3 separate regions of the Homo sapiens genome follow, and all the other regions are linked to region 2. Evidence: fine-mapped expression QTL. A gene starts in region 2. Each other region holds a variant in brackets. All regions are shown on one strand. Distances are from middle to middle. Region 1 holds the start of MIR1205 (microRNA 1205). Region 2 holds the start of PVT1 (Pvt1 oncogene). Region 3 overlaps PVT1 (Pvt1 oncogene).

Region 1 (5,223 bases), 170 kb after region 2:
GGTTAGGAAATGGCAGAAGGGGGTTGGGACCTAGGTGAGCAGCCCGTCAGGAGCCCCTGGGTGGCTTGCACTCCTAGCCCCAAGTGCAATATACAGGTGAGGCGCCTGCAGAATTTTCATTAGGCTGAGTTCATTTCTGGAAGCAGGGAATTGGCATCCACTTAACCATCCCTAATGCCTGCCTTTTCATGTATGTCTGCACTTACTTCTGGCCTTCCCCGGATGCAGTATGTGATTCCTGGAAGGGGTCTCCTGTACGTCGTAGTTTTGTCATCTTCAGGCAACCCAGGATGACATGATTTCTGGAAATTTCCCTGATTTCTTTCTGCTTCACTCTCCCTCTTTTGCTAGAAGGGATCGGCTTAGGCAGCCATTGTGGTGTTCATTCAACATGTCCAGTACAGCCTGTTACTGCAGTTTCCAAGTTGGAGGGTCCGTGAGTCTACTCCCTTTTTTGAACAGAGGGGTACATGGGGAAGCTGAGCCTCTGATGAATGGGTTGATTTGTCCCAGGTCACACAGCTTGAGGGTGGCAGAAGCCAGATCTCAGGTCACAGAGTGGCTCTCCTCCATTTGCCTCCCTGGTCTTGCCTCCTGGAGGCCTGTAGATAGGAGACACCCTTCCTGGAAAGACAACAGCTTGGGGACATTACAGATAAGGCTGGGCGGGTGTGCCTAGCTAGCCCAGAATAAAAGGATCACCGAGAGAAGTTAGGAATCGACCTTCCTTGAGGTGGGTTCTGCAGATAAAGATGCTTTTGAAGTTCAGTTGGTGGGAGATAGGATCTTTGTGGCCTTCTGGATGGATGCACCACGATAGGGAAATCAGCAAGCTGAAGATAGGGAAAGTGAACACTTATCACTGAAGGCCTCTGCAGGGTTTGCTTTGAGGTACTTCCTTCCTGTCAACCCTGTTCTGGAGTCTGTCTCCATTTTTCAGACACAAAAACTGAGGCATAGATAACTGTTTTCTGTTTTTTGTGGGGAGAGAGTATTATTGTTTCAATTTCCTGGACACTTCAAAACATAGGGTATTTCTCATTATGCAATAGTTTAATTGAGCACATACTGCAGGCCAGGCATGGTGCTGCATGCATTCTGGAAGTACAGGAATGAGTTGGAAGTGCTCTTTTTCCTTAGAGATTTTTTGTTCTCTTGTGTGTGTGTTTGGGGGTGGGGGGGGCGGGCGGGCACGAATAGGGGAGGAATTTAGATGAGAAATCAGATAATCACAGCCAAGGTGCCTGCCTGGGGACACAGGGTGCCATAGGCACACAGAAGGGCCCAGGGTGTGGACTTAGGGTGGTCAGGGGAAGGAAGGAGTTTGCCCAGAGAAGAGGCAGGAGGGAGACAGGAAAGGTAAGCAGAGGCCAGATCCTAGAAAGACCATTTTGACTTTGTGCTGAGGGCGATGGTCTCATGATGCAGATTTTAAGCAGAGGTGAGAGAGGGAGAGATTAGCATTTCAGAAAGCATGGCCTCTGCCATAGGAAGACAAGATCAGAGGGAGGTCCAAGCTGGTGGCCAGTGGTGACGGGGCCTGAGCTGGAGGAGACAGGGATGCACTGGAGACCCAAGAGAGAAGTCCCTGAACGCGGTGCACGAAGAGCCTCTGGGGTTACAGGAAGGAAGGGGTAAAATGTTCTTTTCTGTGTCCAGCTTAGGCCACTGAATAGATTCGGTGCTGTGTGTTGTACTAGGAAATGCGGAGGTGATGGGGATTGTTTGGGCTGGAGTCTGGAGGGGCTGTGCCCCACCCCAAGCTGGGTGAGCATCTAAGGTAAGTGAGGGCTGTGCCCAAGACTGCATGAGCAAATCCAGGTTCTCCTACCAGCAAGCTGCCTTGAAGACTCTGAGGCTGGAAATGTATAACCTTGTCCGTACCACTGAGCACCTGTTACCCATACACATTACTGTTCTCCAAACCACGGAACAACTTGAAGGATTGTTTTGCCAGACTAAAAAGTGAAGAAAGCACTGGTTTCCTTCCATGGTGTT[C/T]CTCTTTAAACCACACCTTCTCAACCTTGTTTAGGGAGTGGGGATGGCCTTCAGGAGCTCCAGAGGCCCCCCCTGCCCGAGTCTGACTCCTGGTTTCTGGCTTCAACAATGACTAACCTGTAACTTCACATTTTGGTCTATAAAGTGGGTAGAAATGTAGCACCTCTGCATTCTCCAGGTTTGTTGTGAGGACGAAGGAGATAATGAATGTAGAATTTTTTTTTTTGAGACGGAGTCTCGCTCTGTCGCCTAGGCTGGAGTGCAGTGGCGCGATCTCGCCTCACTGCAACCTCCGCCTCTGGGGTTCAAGCGATTCTCCTGCCTCAGCCTCCCAAGTAGCTGGGCCTGCAGGGGCACTCCCAGCTAATTTTTATATTTTCAGTACAGACGGGGTTTCACCATGTTGGCCAGGATGGTCTCAATCTCTTGATCTCGTGATCCACCTGCCTTGGCCTCCCAAAGTGCTGGGATTACAGGCGTGAGCCACCGCTCCCGGCCATGAATGTAGAATTCTGAGCCCAGGGCTGGCTCACTGGGAGTGGGCCACACATTTAGGGGGTTGTTGTTGTACACATGATCATCGGTGGCACTGCTTTGCAGCCTAATGGTTTTTGACACATGTGTTCCTTCTTAATCCTTAAGCCAGCACCTTGAGTTGGGTGTGATCAACTCATTGAATTTTTTAACTTCAGCTGTGACATTATAGATCATCTAGCTCTGCTGTGACCTTATTTTGTAGATGACAGGGCTAGGGGTTACCATCCCTCTTAAGGCCTAGGGCCTGGGTGTTCTCACACCCAGGTTGCGGTTTTTGTCCTTGTCTTCTGGAGGTTCGTCTGCATTTTATTTTTTTTTGTTGACGATTTGTTGACGAGGCTGGAGTGCGGGGGTGCTATCTCGGCTCACTGCAGCCTCTGCCTCCTGGGTTCAAGTGATTCTGCTGTCTCAGCCTCCCGAGTAGCTGGGATTACAGGGGCACACCACTGCACCTGGCTAATTTTTGTATTTTTAGTAGAGACGGGGTTTCACCGTGTTGGCCAGGCTGGTCTCAAACACCTGACCTCAGGTGATCGCCCACCTCGGCCTCCCAAAGTGCTGGGATTACAGGCATGAGCCTCCATGCCTGGCCTCATCTGCATTTTAGGGTCCCTGTTTTACAAAGGAGCAGTCCCTATTTTACTTGCAGATGGGCAGTAGTGTCAGATCCTCACTGGGGTGGTCAGGGAAGAGGAGGTGTTTGGAAGAGGGCCCCAATGGACCTCTGGCCTGCGGGATTGAGATCGGGCTGGCCAGCTCTCCTCTCTTTCCTCAACAGAGTCTGGGTCTCACCCTGCCCAGCAGCTTTCTCTTCTTCCTAGAAGTGCCCAAGACAGGATCTTTTCAGTTCTGAGATCTTCCACCCCTCGCACGGCAGCCTTCCTGCCCCTGCCCAGGCTGACTTCACACCATGCTCTGTTATCCCAGGTCCTAGGCTCGCATCGGCCACTTGCCACCATGTTGGTGACTGCCTGCCCTCTACCTTGGATGGTGCGGTCCACGGGGCAGGACTGGGGTTTGCCATTTGTGTGTCCCTGGTGCTTCTCTCAGTGTCTGACACCTGGTGAGATTTGCCACCTGTTTGGTGCATGGGTGAGTGTGGTTGTTTACACTAGCGTTGTTATTGGAAATCACTCAATTCTTGTTCTCACCCACTCCTGCCTCCTCTGAGAAAAAGTGTGGCAGAAAAGTTCCCTGAACTACTAACACAGGGGGATTTAGCACTCTTAGATATTTTTAACTTTTCCATAGAAAGGCAGCACCCCCCACCCCCCTCCACCCTTTTTTTGAAGCAGCAGCATTTACAAATATTGAAACCAACTTTGTACATCTCCACTCTGACTTCTGGGCCTATTTAATAAATATTCACTCAAACATGTACTATGTGTCAGGCATGATTTTTGGCACTTGGGAAACATCAGGGAATGATGTTTGGGGAGGAAGCTGATCTAGCTGGGGCCCAGGTGGGGTTGGAATGGAGGAATGGAGTCCTGCCCTAAATCCAGCATGGCCTTTGTCCTGCGTGCCTTGGGACCTGGTCCTGGTGGTTCCCTCCACTTCTCTGATTCTTGGTTTGAATATATATTGACTGAAGAGTTGGAATAGAAATATCTTCGTATTCTGTTTTCAGTTCTAGGATCGTTTATTCGTCCAGTAACGTTTGTCAGGGGTTGAATGTCGAGTGGAGAATGGCTGAATTTGCACTGTGAGGGAACTCACAGCTGGAGGGAGATCCCCACAGGGACTGCGAAGGCTTATTGCAGATGAAGGAGTGCCATGACGACGATGACCCCCAGGAGCGTCCTTCCAGGACAAGCAGATGGGTTCAGGGAAGGCTGGGCAAAGAGGGGCAAGTCAGCCATGCCTGGAGAGGAGCAGCATCTGCTGGGAGTCCTGTTTTGACAGTTGTCATTCCCAGATGTTCGGTGGTGTGTTCCCTGCAGCAGGCCTGCATGCACCTGGATGTCAGAGTGGGAGGCCATTAGCTCACTGGTTCAGAAATAGTTCCTGGTTATGCCTGTCTTGTGGTGGCCCATTCTCAGCTTGGCGGATACAGCAGCGACCAACCGAAGCCACCAGTGGGAGCAGAACTGGAGGATGGAGGTCCTCGGAAGGGTTCTAGCCACACTGGGCTTCAGACCCTCCAGAGTCAAAGCCTGGCTTCCTTCTCCTGCTGGAGGCAAAGGCCCTTATTGTTTTTTTGTGGCTGCAGTAACAAATTTCGACAGATTTGGTAGCTTAAAACAACAGAAATTTATTGTCTTACAGTTCTGGAGGCCAGAAGTCTGAAATCAAGGTGTCAGCGAGGTTGACACCCTCTGAGGTGCTAAGGGACACCCTTTCCTTGCCTCTTCCAGCTGCTTGTGGCACTGGATGTTGCTCGGCTTGTGGCAGAATCATTCCAATCTCTGCTCTTGTCTCCACGTACCTTCTCTATGTCCGTCTCTCCTCATGTTTTAGGGCCTCCAATGATCTCATCTCAAGATTATTATTTTTAAACAACTTTATTTAATTTTATTATTATTTTATTGATTTATTTTAAGAATGGGGTTTTACCATGTTCCCCTTGCAGCTCTCCTACTCTTGAGCTCAAGCCATTGTACTGCCTCAGCCTCCCACAGCATGGGATTACAGGCGTGAGCCCCCACTCCTATCCAAGATTCTTAACTTCATTACATCAGCAAAAGC
Region 2 (5,223 bases):
AATGTGAATCTAAGATTAGTGCATGAGAGCTGGAGACCCAGAGAGGGCAAACAGCATCAAGGTCAAAGTTGAGTGAGTCCTGGGTGAAAGTGTCTTTTCAGCCAGGGGAGATTTTCCATGCAGAAGGGACTGGGCATCAACTGTCAGGACATGGACAGAGACGTCTGCCATTAGAAGCTGGTCCTCTCATAGCCCACCAGCATCCCCCAGGAGGACACTGGCTTCCTCAAGGTCACAGCCTTTGGTTTCTGGAAAAAATGATTAAGCAGTGAAAGGATTAAGGTCTCACAGCTCCTATCGCATGATGTATAGATGCAGAGGTTTCTCATCATCTTCTTTTTATATTTTAAAAGATGGATGACAACTAGATGCCAACTGCAGCTCAGGCACCTGCCCAGTCCCTCTCAGAGCCGGGCACAAAACAGACACCTGTCTAGCCCCTCACAGAGAGCCAGGCACAAAACAGACACCTGTCCAGCCCCTCACAGAGAGCCAGGCACAAAGCGGAGACTTGTCCAGCTCCTGGCAAGGAGCCAGGCACAAAAGAGATGCCCATGAGTGTAAATGAATCTGTGAAACAGGCAGAACAGGAGCATCAACTGAGTAATTGTTTTTTCTTTTTCAAATAAGAACATTTGCGTTGAGAAGCCGCCACGGGAAGAGATGTGATGAAACACTACACAGAAAGAGGGAGGAGCCTCCGGGTAGGTTGGAGTGAGTAGGATGTAGGGTAGCCGGCAGGGGAGAAGAGGGGCAACCTTCTGTTCCGTAATATTGATACCACCCATTTGTGTGTCCAATTTTTGCTGGTTTGTGACGTCCTTCTAGGGTCCATGAGTAACCCCCACCCCATTGCCTAGCTGGGTGCCTGACTCCCCTTAAGTGCTCAGTAGACGTTGAACTGGACGGGCGCTGGCGTGGTGGCTCACGCCTGTAATCCCAGCAATTTGGGAGGCCGAAGCGAGTGGATCATCTCAGGTTCGGAGTTCGAGACCAGCCTGGCCAACATGGTGAAACCTTGTCTCTGCTAAAATTACAAAAATTAGCTGGGCGTGGTGGCGCGCGCCTGTGATCCCAGCTACTCCGGAGGCTGAGGCAGGAGAATCGCTTGAACCAGGCAGGCGGAGGTTGCAGTGAGCCATGATCGGGCCACTGCACTCCAGCCTGGGTGACAGAGTGAAACTTCATCTCTAAATAAATAAATAAATAAATAAATAAATAAATAAATAAAATAAACTTTGAACTGAACAGGGGCAGCTCTTACATCTGTCCAGTCTCGGGTTTATGCAGATAGAACAAGATAACCACATCCCACATGGGAGGCCAGTGTCCACTTGCTCCTTTGGAGGAACTACTGGGCATTTAAGGGACTCGTTGAACACACTCTGTAGGTCAACTCTGCCCGGAGTGGAGGGAGCTGCGCAGACCGCTGGCCCTCTGCACGGGTTTGCAACTCGGCTTCTGGAAACAGCGGGAGACGTCGAAGGAGGCGAGAAGGTGCGCGCGCCCTTCTCACCAGGCCGGCGGATGCTGGGTGGTACCCAAAGAGGCGCTCAGATCACTGGAGCTGGAGCTCAGTCGGCGGTCTTCTGCGGGAACTGCACCTATCCCGGAGCATCTCTGGCCCTCCTATTTCACTGAACTCGCCTTCCTCAGCAGGAAAGTGGGAAGACCGCTTGCTTCCAGGACGGTGTGGGGAAGGGTAAGAGGGCTCAGGGAAAGACCGTGGAAAGCTCGGCGCACAAGCGAGCTGGCATCACCGGGGATTCCCTCCGGCCCGGTGGGACTCCGGCGCGCTTGTAGCGAGGACCCCCAGCCCAGGGCAGAGCCTACCCTCCGCTCCCCCAGTCTGGGCCCTTGGCGGCCGCAGTCGCCCAAGCCCGCCCCGCCTCCGCGCGCGGCCCTCTCCGGCTCAGTGCCCTGCGCTGCCGGGAAGCAGGCTGAGGGGCGCACCGGGCGGCGGGCGGGGACCTGGGGAAGGCCGGGAGCGCCGGGACCGAGGACGCACGCGGCGGGCCGGGCCGCGCGCGCCTCCCCCCTCCCCCGAGGCCCGAGCGCGAGCCGCCGTGACGTCACGGGCAACCCGCCAGCCCCGCGCTCCTCCGGGCAGAGCGCGTGTGGCGGCCGAGCACATGGGCCCGCGGGCCGGGCGGGCTCGGGGCGGCCGGGACGAGGAGGGGCGACGACGAGCTGCGAGCAAAGATGTGCCCCGGGACCCCCGGCACCTTCCAGTGGATTTCCTTGCGGAAAGGATGTTGGCGGTCCCTGTGACCTGTGGAGACACGGCCAGATCTGCCCTCCAGTAAGTTCCAATTTTGTCCCCTGCGTTTCTGGAAACTCTCGAGACTTGGCCCTGAGTAGGGATGCGCTGTGAGTAGTCGGACGGAGGAAAGGGGCTTTCGGAATCCAATATGTGTGTGCTAGGCGTGCACTGTCCTCATCACCAGCCTCAAGACTGGTGGCGAGTTTGGGCGTTTGGGGAGGGTGAGGGGAGGGGGATGACACCGAATGGCCGGTGCATAGAGGCAATTCTGGATTTATGAACTTGATCAAAGGCATATTAACTAATTTCTAAAAATAGACCCCTCTGCAGTCAGAACAGATTTGGAGCCATGATGTGGTTTGGAGGCCCCTCTGGCGAAACTAGAGGTCTGTGAATGTGTGATCCTCCCTCCATCCTTTGACCATCACTCCCCGCTTCCTCTCACACCCCCTCAGGGCTGGGCGAAGGTGATTTCCAAAAACTCAGTAACTCCGTGTTTTGAGACTTTCTCAGTTTTTGCATCGCATGTGAGGGTTTGTTGGGTGCTCCTAAACCCTCATCATGGTCATTCTTCTTGGCTGGGCTGTTGATTTAATTAGGTTTGCCTTCTCTTGCTAACGTGCTCTTATTTATGCCAGTGTTTGTGGTTCTGGGTGTAGACTTTCAGGAAGCACAGCCATGAAGCTGCATGCGTCTGTGTGTGGATGCCTCATGCCTTTTCCTGGTGGTTTGCAGGCATGGAAGATTCTTCTGTTCATCTAAGCTCCTGACTTTAGGCCCTTCTAGAACATTAGAGAGGAGAAGAAATCACGTGCAAGGATTTAGGGACAAGAGGATGAGGTTTTGGTGTTTCCTTTCTGGTATTAGGTTTTCCAGAGAGAGGCTGTTAGCCTGTCTCTCGCCCACTCCACCACTGTGAATCCTGGCTACTGGGGCTAGTTCCTTGCTAGGAAAAAAAAACTCTAGAGAAATGTGTTTGTGTGTGGTGGGTGGGCGGGGGCCCTGAGGATGCAGGGACTGTGTCTGCTGTGTTGTCTGTTATAAGATGTTTCAGACCTATTTTGCATACTGGCAGCGACAAGTTGAGACTTGTTCAACTTGACACAGTCCTGTGGTCATAGCGAATCTTTCTAAAGCTCTGATCAGTCAAGAAGGGGGTTGTATCAATCCTCAGAACCCTGAGTGGAACTTTCTACAGGATTTATTAGGAGAAAAACCTTCCCGGAAGCTGCAGAAGGACAAATACAGAATCCGTGTCTGGGAGAAACCTCGTGGCCTGGTCTCCATTATTTGAGATGAGTTACATCTTGGAGGTGAGGACGTGCCTCGTGGTCTAAAGCTTCGGCACAAGGGCCCAACTGGAATTCCACTTACGGGTATGACTGTGGGGTATATGCTGTACCCATTGAATTCCCAGAGGGATTTGTTAAGTGGTTGTGTTGCTGTTTTGCCTGGTTAAGAGTGGCTTATTCTTGTTGCCTCATCTATCTTGAGTGCAGAATTTTTGCATAAACGGCTTCTCTTGAAAAATAGAAGTCCGTTTTTGTTTTGTTTTGTTTTTTTTCTGATTAACTTTCCTTTTCCTCTGTCTTAAACACCTTCCCCCGCCCCTCGCCACCTCCATGCTGTGTTTCTGTGGCTGGAGCTTTTCTGCACTGGAAAGGAGGAGTTCTCCCCTCTGTTCTGACATATCTGATCCCCACTAGTTTATATGATTGCTGGTCTGAAAACCTGGTGAATTCTCACTGCCCACATCAAATCAATTCCCTGTTCTTTAGTTGTTTTTTTTTTCCGCCTCCTGAGCGGTAGGCAGGCACTCTGGCTGGATTCTGGAGCCTGTGTTTGCCATGCCTGGGCCTTCTGCCTGCCCAAGATGGACACGTTTCTCTGGCAGCTTTGTCAAGAGATCTCCTGGACTATAAGACACCCTGTTCTTTCCTCCTGTTTGTGTGAGTGGCCCTGCATTTGGGCAGAGTATTGGCAGAATATCTGGGGGAAGTGGAAGACTTTGGATAGTTGCCGGTCCAGGTCGTCTGGAGAGGCAGTGGCAGGCCTGCTGATGGCTGCCCCTTTGCTATTTGTTTTATATCAGGTGGCCCTTCTGGATGTGTGGCCTTTTTATTTTGCATTTCCTTTCATAGTTGGCTGCAGACATAAGATTCTTCTTTTTCTCTTGTTTTGCTTTTTTTTTTTTTTTTTTGAGACAGAGTTTCACTCTTGTTGCCCAGGCTGGAGTAAAATGGCTGGATTTCAGCTCACTGCAACTTCCGCCTCCCAGGTTCAAGCGATTCTCCTGCCTCAGCCTCCCAAGTAGCTAGGATTACAGGCATGCATCACCACACCCAGCTAATTTTGTATTTTTAGTAGAGACGGAGTTTCTCCAGATTGGTCAGGCTGGTCTTGAACTCCCAGCCTCAGGTGATCCGCCCGCCTTGGCCTCCCAAAATGCTGGGAGGCCTCCCAAGTTGCTGGGATTACAGGCATGGACCACCATGCCTGGCTAATTTTGTATTTTTAGTAGAGACGGAGTTTCTCCAGATTGGTCAAGCTGGTCTCGAACATCTGACCTCAGGTGATCTGCCCTCCTCGGCCTCCCAAAGTACTGGGATTACAGGTGCCACAGTACCCGGCCTTGTTTTGCTTTTTATTGTTTCCTGATGCAGGTTTGTGATCTCTTTGAGGGATCAGGACCACACCCCCCACCCCAATTTATATTCCCAGTGTCCATGGTGGGACCCTGACTGAGGATGGGAACAGAGCAACAATCTGGAATCATTTGGACCATTGAGTCCTGTGGACAGTCACTTCAATATCATCCCTAGAGAGTCTCAGAAATTCAAGGCCTTTTGGAATGCTGCCAAAATGGGTCCTTTGGCAGGAGCCCCCTTTGTCTCTTCTGTTTTCTGACCTCAAATAATCTAAGGAACTAATAACGGTAATAAATAACAATTAATAATAAG
Region 3 (5,223 bases), 200 kb after region 2:
CTCCTAGTCCCTTCTTTCAGCTCTGTTTCTTCTGAAAATGAGGATCTTTCTCTCTACAGTGCCTCTTGTGGGACGGGTTCTGCTGATGGGGGCTGTGTTTGGGATCTCGCCTGGAAACACGATCTCTCCAACTTTCCCTGGGAGCAGAGCCTTGGGTCTCACTGAACCCACCTCCCCAGCACCTTGTGTGGTGACTGGCAGGAGGTAGCCATTCCCTCCTGTCCTCTCTGCCCTTGTCCACTTTCCTGTTATGAGTCAGTTGCTGAGATAGGCTATGAGGAGTTAACAGAGTGGATAAAAAAGAGCTTTGTCCTTCTTTAAAGCCTTCAAAATATACAGATGTATTAGTCAGGGCTTTCCAGAGAAACAGGACCAATAGAACATGAAGATAGATGCGTATCCATGTCTATATCAATATCTACCTTGATATTTATATCTATATCTAGGAGATTTATTTATTATAAGGTATTGGCTCATGCAATTATGGACCCAGAGGGGTCCTGTGATTTGCCACCTGCAGGCTGGAGACCTAGGAAACAGCTGTCGTGTCACAAAGGGCAGAGGGCTGGAGAACCTGTAGTGTAGATTCCAGTCCAGATTCGAAGGCCTGAGGACCAGGAATGCCAAGGGCAGGAGAAGATCGATGTCCCAGAACAAGCAATCAGGCAGAGATGAAATTCAACCTTCCTGTGCCTTTCTGTTCTATTCAGGCCTTCAGTGGGTTGAATGAGGCCCAACCCACATTGAAGAGGACCATCTGCTTTACTCAGTCTCCTGGTTGAAGTGATAATCTCATCTGGACATACTCAGAAATGCTGTTTAACCAGCTCTCTGGAAATCCTGTGGCCCAGTCAAGTTGACACACAAAATTAACCATCACACTGCAGAGACACAGTCTATCCCAATACCTGTATTTACTGGGTAACGTGCATCTCAGCTCACCAGGCTGGTTTGATTGACTTGGCCCAAAGCTGCCCTTTGAGTGTTGAGCCCCAGCTGACCCCTTTGATCCTTCACAGCCCCATCATTAAAACAAGGACCCTGAATCAAGTGACTGTAAGAGCCACTCTTGTCCTGTTCTGTCTGTATCCTGGCTTTGAGTGTTTATCTAAGCTAAGCCCAATTGACTGTTGTCATTCTTTGTCTCTTCCTTGCTCAGACATCAGTTAGGTATTTATTGAACACTCCTGTGTTCACAGCATCCGGCTCCTGGGATTAGAGACAGCTCTTGACTCCTGGTTTTGCTCTTTGAAACCTATTGGACTGCTTTTCTTTTAAGATACACCCCCCACATTATAGGAATCTATCCATTTCTTTGTTCATTTCTTTAATTGTGCATTATATCAGTCCGTCAGTCAGTTTTCCTCCTGAAATATGCTAAGTATTGAGAATTATAATAGATTCTATTAAGCACCGCTAATAAAGTACTATCCTTATAGTAGTAGTAGTGTTTGCGGTGATGGTCGTGTTAGTACTAGTAGTAATCAAGATGGCCATGAAGAGACTGCTTTTAATCTACCAGTAATCATGGTAAAAATAGTAATAGCTCAAATGTATTATTCATGGTGTTTCAAGCACTTTACATTATATGATGTCATTTACTCTTCACAACCTGCCAGGAAATGGAAATGATTACGTAATATACTCCAGTTTGCAAATGAAGGAATCTTCCTGCGGAACGTATGTGAAGCGCATATTGGTGCTCTGGGCTTTTGCATAATTTCAAATGTCCTTTTTTTTTTTAAACTTAAGGCTAATGTTTAGAAGCTTTTGCTAATGAGAGGACCATTTGCTAAATCGGTATAAGTGCTACACATTTGGGTATCTCCATCCCAACATACCTCTTATTGCCATTCCCCAAAGCAGACACCTTCTCCTCCCTCCCTCAAGGACCTCTGAGCTTGCACTCCAATTCCTCTCCCACACTCACCTTTCTCCTTTCTGTTCCTCTTGGGATCCAGGTTTATTTGAGGAGATAGGAAAAGCTCCTGATCCAGCAGGTTTTATTCTTAAATTTGTAACAAAGTAAATCACAGAACCTCCACCCAGCATCCAGGCCTCTGGTTCTCTCCCTCCTTCCCAGGTATAGGCCGGCTTTCAGAAACCCTGCACCACATAGACCCTGGGCCTGAATTGCTGTGAGTAATAATGACTCTGCTGGTAATTTGTGTCCTTCTGCTTGGAACTGTTTCCTTTTTAGTTTGGTCACCCTCCCAGAGCTGGTTTCAATGGGGGCATACCCATTATGGGATGCAGGGCATCCTGCATCCTGAGGAATTTTTTTTCCTCCAAAAATGAAACCTTGAAATGAGGACATTGTCCTGTCCACGGACTGCACAACAACACTGAGCCTCAAGGACTCATACTGGCATTTTTCTTCTTTTGCAGAGTGTGGGCACCCTGGCTTCAAGCTCACGAGAAACCAGGTCGGGATTTAAACAATGTTGGGTTAAAGCAAAGTTTCATAAAGACAGAATCAAGAAAAAAAGAAAGAGAAACCAATCTAAGTGCCATCCTCCCTGAGTTGCATCTTACCTGAGTCTTCAGCCGCCGCCCCCTGCTGCTGTGGGAGGAAACGGGAAAGTGACTGG[C/T]CATGGGGACAGGGGTCGGGGGTGTGAGGGTTAGTGGTAGCAGGGAGGTAGCACTTCTGTGAAGCCGGAAAGGAGACCTGAACCTGGCTCTCTGCTTTGCTGCTTGCCAGCCCTCTGGCTGGGAAGAAGGCTCTTGGCTCTTGTGAGCCTCGGTTTCCTCTGCAGAGTGGCCTGTTCTGAGGACAGGCTGACATTGCTGTCCATCAGTCTTCCAGGACCCTGAGGATTTCAGCTCTACCCATGGGCACTGAACTGGAACATTCACTGGTCATTTGCTTTCGTTTTTTTTTTTTGTTTGTTTGTTTTTTGATACAGAGTTTCACTCTTGTTGCCTAGGGTGGAGTACAATGGCGTGATCTCAGCTCACCACAAGCTCTGCCTCCCGGGGTCAAGCGATTCTCCCCAGTAGCTGAGATTACAGGCATGCGCCACCACGTCCGGCTAATTTTGTATTTTTAGTAGTGATGGGGTTTCTCCGTGTTGGTCAGGCTGGTCTCGAACTCCTGACCTCAGGTGATCCGTCTGCCTCAGCCTCCCAAAGTGCTGGGATTACAGGAGTGAGCCACCGAGCCTGGCCGCTTCCGGTCTTTGGATTTGATTTTCCTCAAGTGTAATTGAAAGCAGGGGCCTGGATGGCCGCCATAGTCCCTCCCAGCTTCGACATTACACATTCCTGCCAATCCATTTTTCAGGCTGATAACATTGTTCAGAGTTTAATGGGAGCAGGGTAAGATAGTCACCGTGTGGAGCAAAAATTGAAGGAAATATTCCAGATGTCATGATTTTTTACCTGTAGCCCCTCTGCTGCCACACCCTTGTGCACATCCTCCAGACACTTTTAAAGAATAAACTCTATTTTCAGAAGAGTTTTAGATTTACAGGAGAATTGTGAAAACAGTTCAAAAAGTTCTCATATACCCTGCTCCCAGTTTTCCCTGTTACTAACGCTTTGCATTAGTGTGGCACATTTGCCACAATTAATGGACCAATATTGATACATTATTATTTACTGAAGTTGAAACATTACTTTAGTTTTTACCTGGTCCAGGATCCCATCTGGGATCCCACATCACATTTAGTGATCATGTCTTCTTAGATTGCCCTGGGCTGTGCCGCTTTCTCAGACTCTCCTGGTTTGTGATGACATTGACAGTCTTGAGTTTTGATGACCAGTTTTGACTGGTCAGGTATTTCATAGAACGTACCTCTGTGAGGGTTGTCTGATTCTTCTTCTTATTAGATTGGGATTATGGAGGAAGGCCACAGAGGTAAAGTTCCGCTTTTATGAAATCAAGGGTAGGCACCATCAGCATGACCTATCACTGATGTTGACTTTGATTACCTGGCTGCTGTAGTGGTTGTCAGGTTTGTCCACTTTAAAGATACTTTTGTGTTTTTGTTCTTTCTTAACTCCCTTTTTATATTAAACTCTTCAGAAGGAAGTCACTGTGCATAGCCATCCCCTAAGAAGAGGGCATTCCTGCTCTTCCTTCTCCATGGCTAGAGGATCTACATGAACTATTTAGATTTTTTCTACCTGGGAGATTTAACTCCTCTCTCCTATTTATTTATTTATATATCAGCATGGACTTGCAGGTATTTATTTGATAATTTTTAATTTATTTGAGTTATAATCCAATAATATGGTTTTATTTTGTTGCTCATGGTTTTTCTTCCTTGGCTATTGGGAACTCTTCAGTTACTTCCTGTGCCCATTTGACATACTTTCTTATTATGGGTCTTTCTTTCTTCCTTTTCTTTCCTTCTTTCTTTCTCTCTCTCTCTCTCTCTCTCTTCCTTCCTTCCCTTCCTCCCTCCCTCTTTTCTTTTCTTTTTTCTTTTCTTTCCTTCCTTCCTCCCTCCCTCACTCCCTCCTTCCTTCCTTTTTCTTCCTTTTTTCCTTCCTTCCTTCCCTCCCTTCCTCTTTTCTTTCTTCTTTCTTTCTTTCTTTCCTTCCTTTCTCCTTCCTTCCTTCCTTTTCTTCCTTTCTTTTCCTACCTTCCTTTTCCTTCCTTCCTTTCTTCCTTCCTTTCCTCCTTCCTCTTCTCCTCCTCCCCTTCCTTCCTTCCTTCCTTCCTTCCTTCCCTCCCTCCCTCTCTCTCTCTCTCTCTCTTTTTTTGGTGCATCCATACTTTCTGGCACTATAAGATGCTTAGGGCTTATCTTGTATATTTCCAGCCCCAGTTATAGAATCAGCCATTTCTTCAAGGATCCCCTGTCATTTTACTGGAGAAAGGACTTAGAATCCAAGATCTGGGTGCTAGATGTGCTTGAGGTGTTGTTTCCTCCAGATCTTCTCAACTGACAGAGCAGTGAAATATATGTGTGTAGGGAGGATGGGGAGAACAATTTTTTTAACACATATGAATACTTACCTGGCAGGGGAGATACCATGATCACAAAGGTGGTTTCCCCAGGGTGAGGCTTATCCATTGCACTCCCGATGTGCTGACCCCTGTGATTCCCCCAAATGTGGGAGACTTGACTGCATAATTTGTGGTAATGGGGGACTGCATTTACACTTTTCCCTGTAAAAATTTTTAAAAATAAATAAATACATAAATAAATAAATGTGTGTATATGAATCCATGTGCATGCACGTATGTGTAAATATTTCTCCAGGTATCCATCT

Evidence for each region. PIP is the estimated chance that this variant, and not a neighbour inherited with it, causes the effect.
Region 1: its variant is fine-mapped to the expression of PVT1 in whole blood (TOPMed, PIP above 0.99).
Region 3: its variant is fine-mapped to the expression of PVT1 in blood mononuclear cells (TOPMed, PIP above 0.99). The same link has a PIP of 0.9 or more in Th2 cells, adrenal gland, esophagus mucosa, fibroblasts, follicular helper T cells and lung.

Annotation. Positions count from the first base shown.
Region 1 is chr8:127,959,769-127,964,991 of GRCh38, forward strand. The region is part of intron 3 of PVT1 (Pvt1 oncogene); the gene reads left to right. MIR1205 (microRNA 1205) reads left to right here and starts at 865; the gene lies at 865-927. RefSeq lists enhancers at 241-1,216, 4,531-5,142 and a cis regulatory region at 623-734. The variant C/T (reference allele first, on the strand shown) is at 1,999.
Region 2 is chr8:127,792,433-127,797,655 of GRCh38, forward strand. PVT1 (Pvt1 oncogene) reads left to right here and starts at 2,092. Exons shown (of 9, transcript NR_190187.1): 1 at 2,092-2,302. MIR1204 (microRNA 1204) reads left to right here and starts at 3,530; the gene lies at 3,530-3,596. RefSeq lists enhancers at 502-1,072, 2,215-2,784, 2,785-3,356, 3,078-3,127, 3,228-3,567 and silencers at 1,798-1,847, 1,868-1,927, 1,938-2,097.
Region 3 is chr8:127,994,173-127,999,395 of GRCh38, forward strand. All of the region lies in intron 4 of PVT1 (Pvt1 oncogene), which reads left to right. It also overlaps the pseudogene RNVU1-32. Among named protein-coding and RNA genes, the nearest start is that of MIR1206, 12 kb to the right of the region's middle. RefSeq lists an enhancer at 2,409-2,498. The variant C/T (reference allele first, on the strand shown) is at 2,592.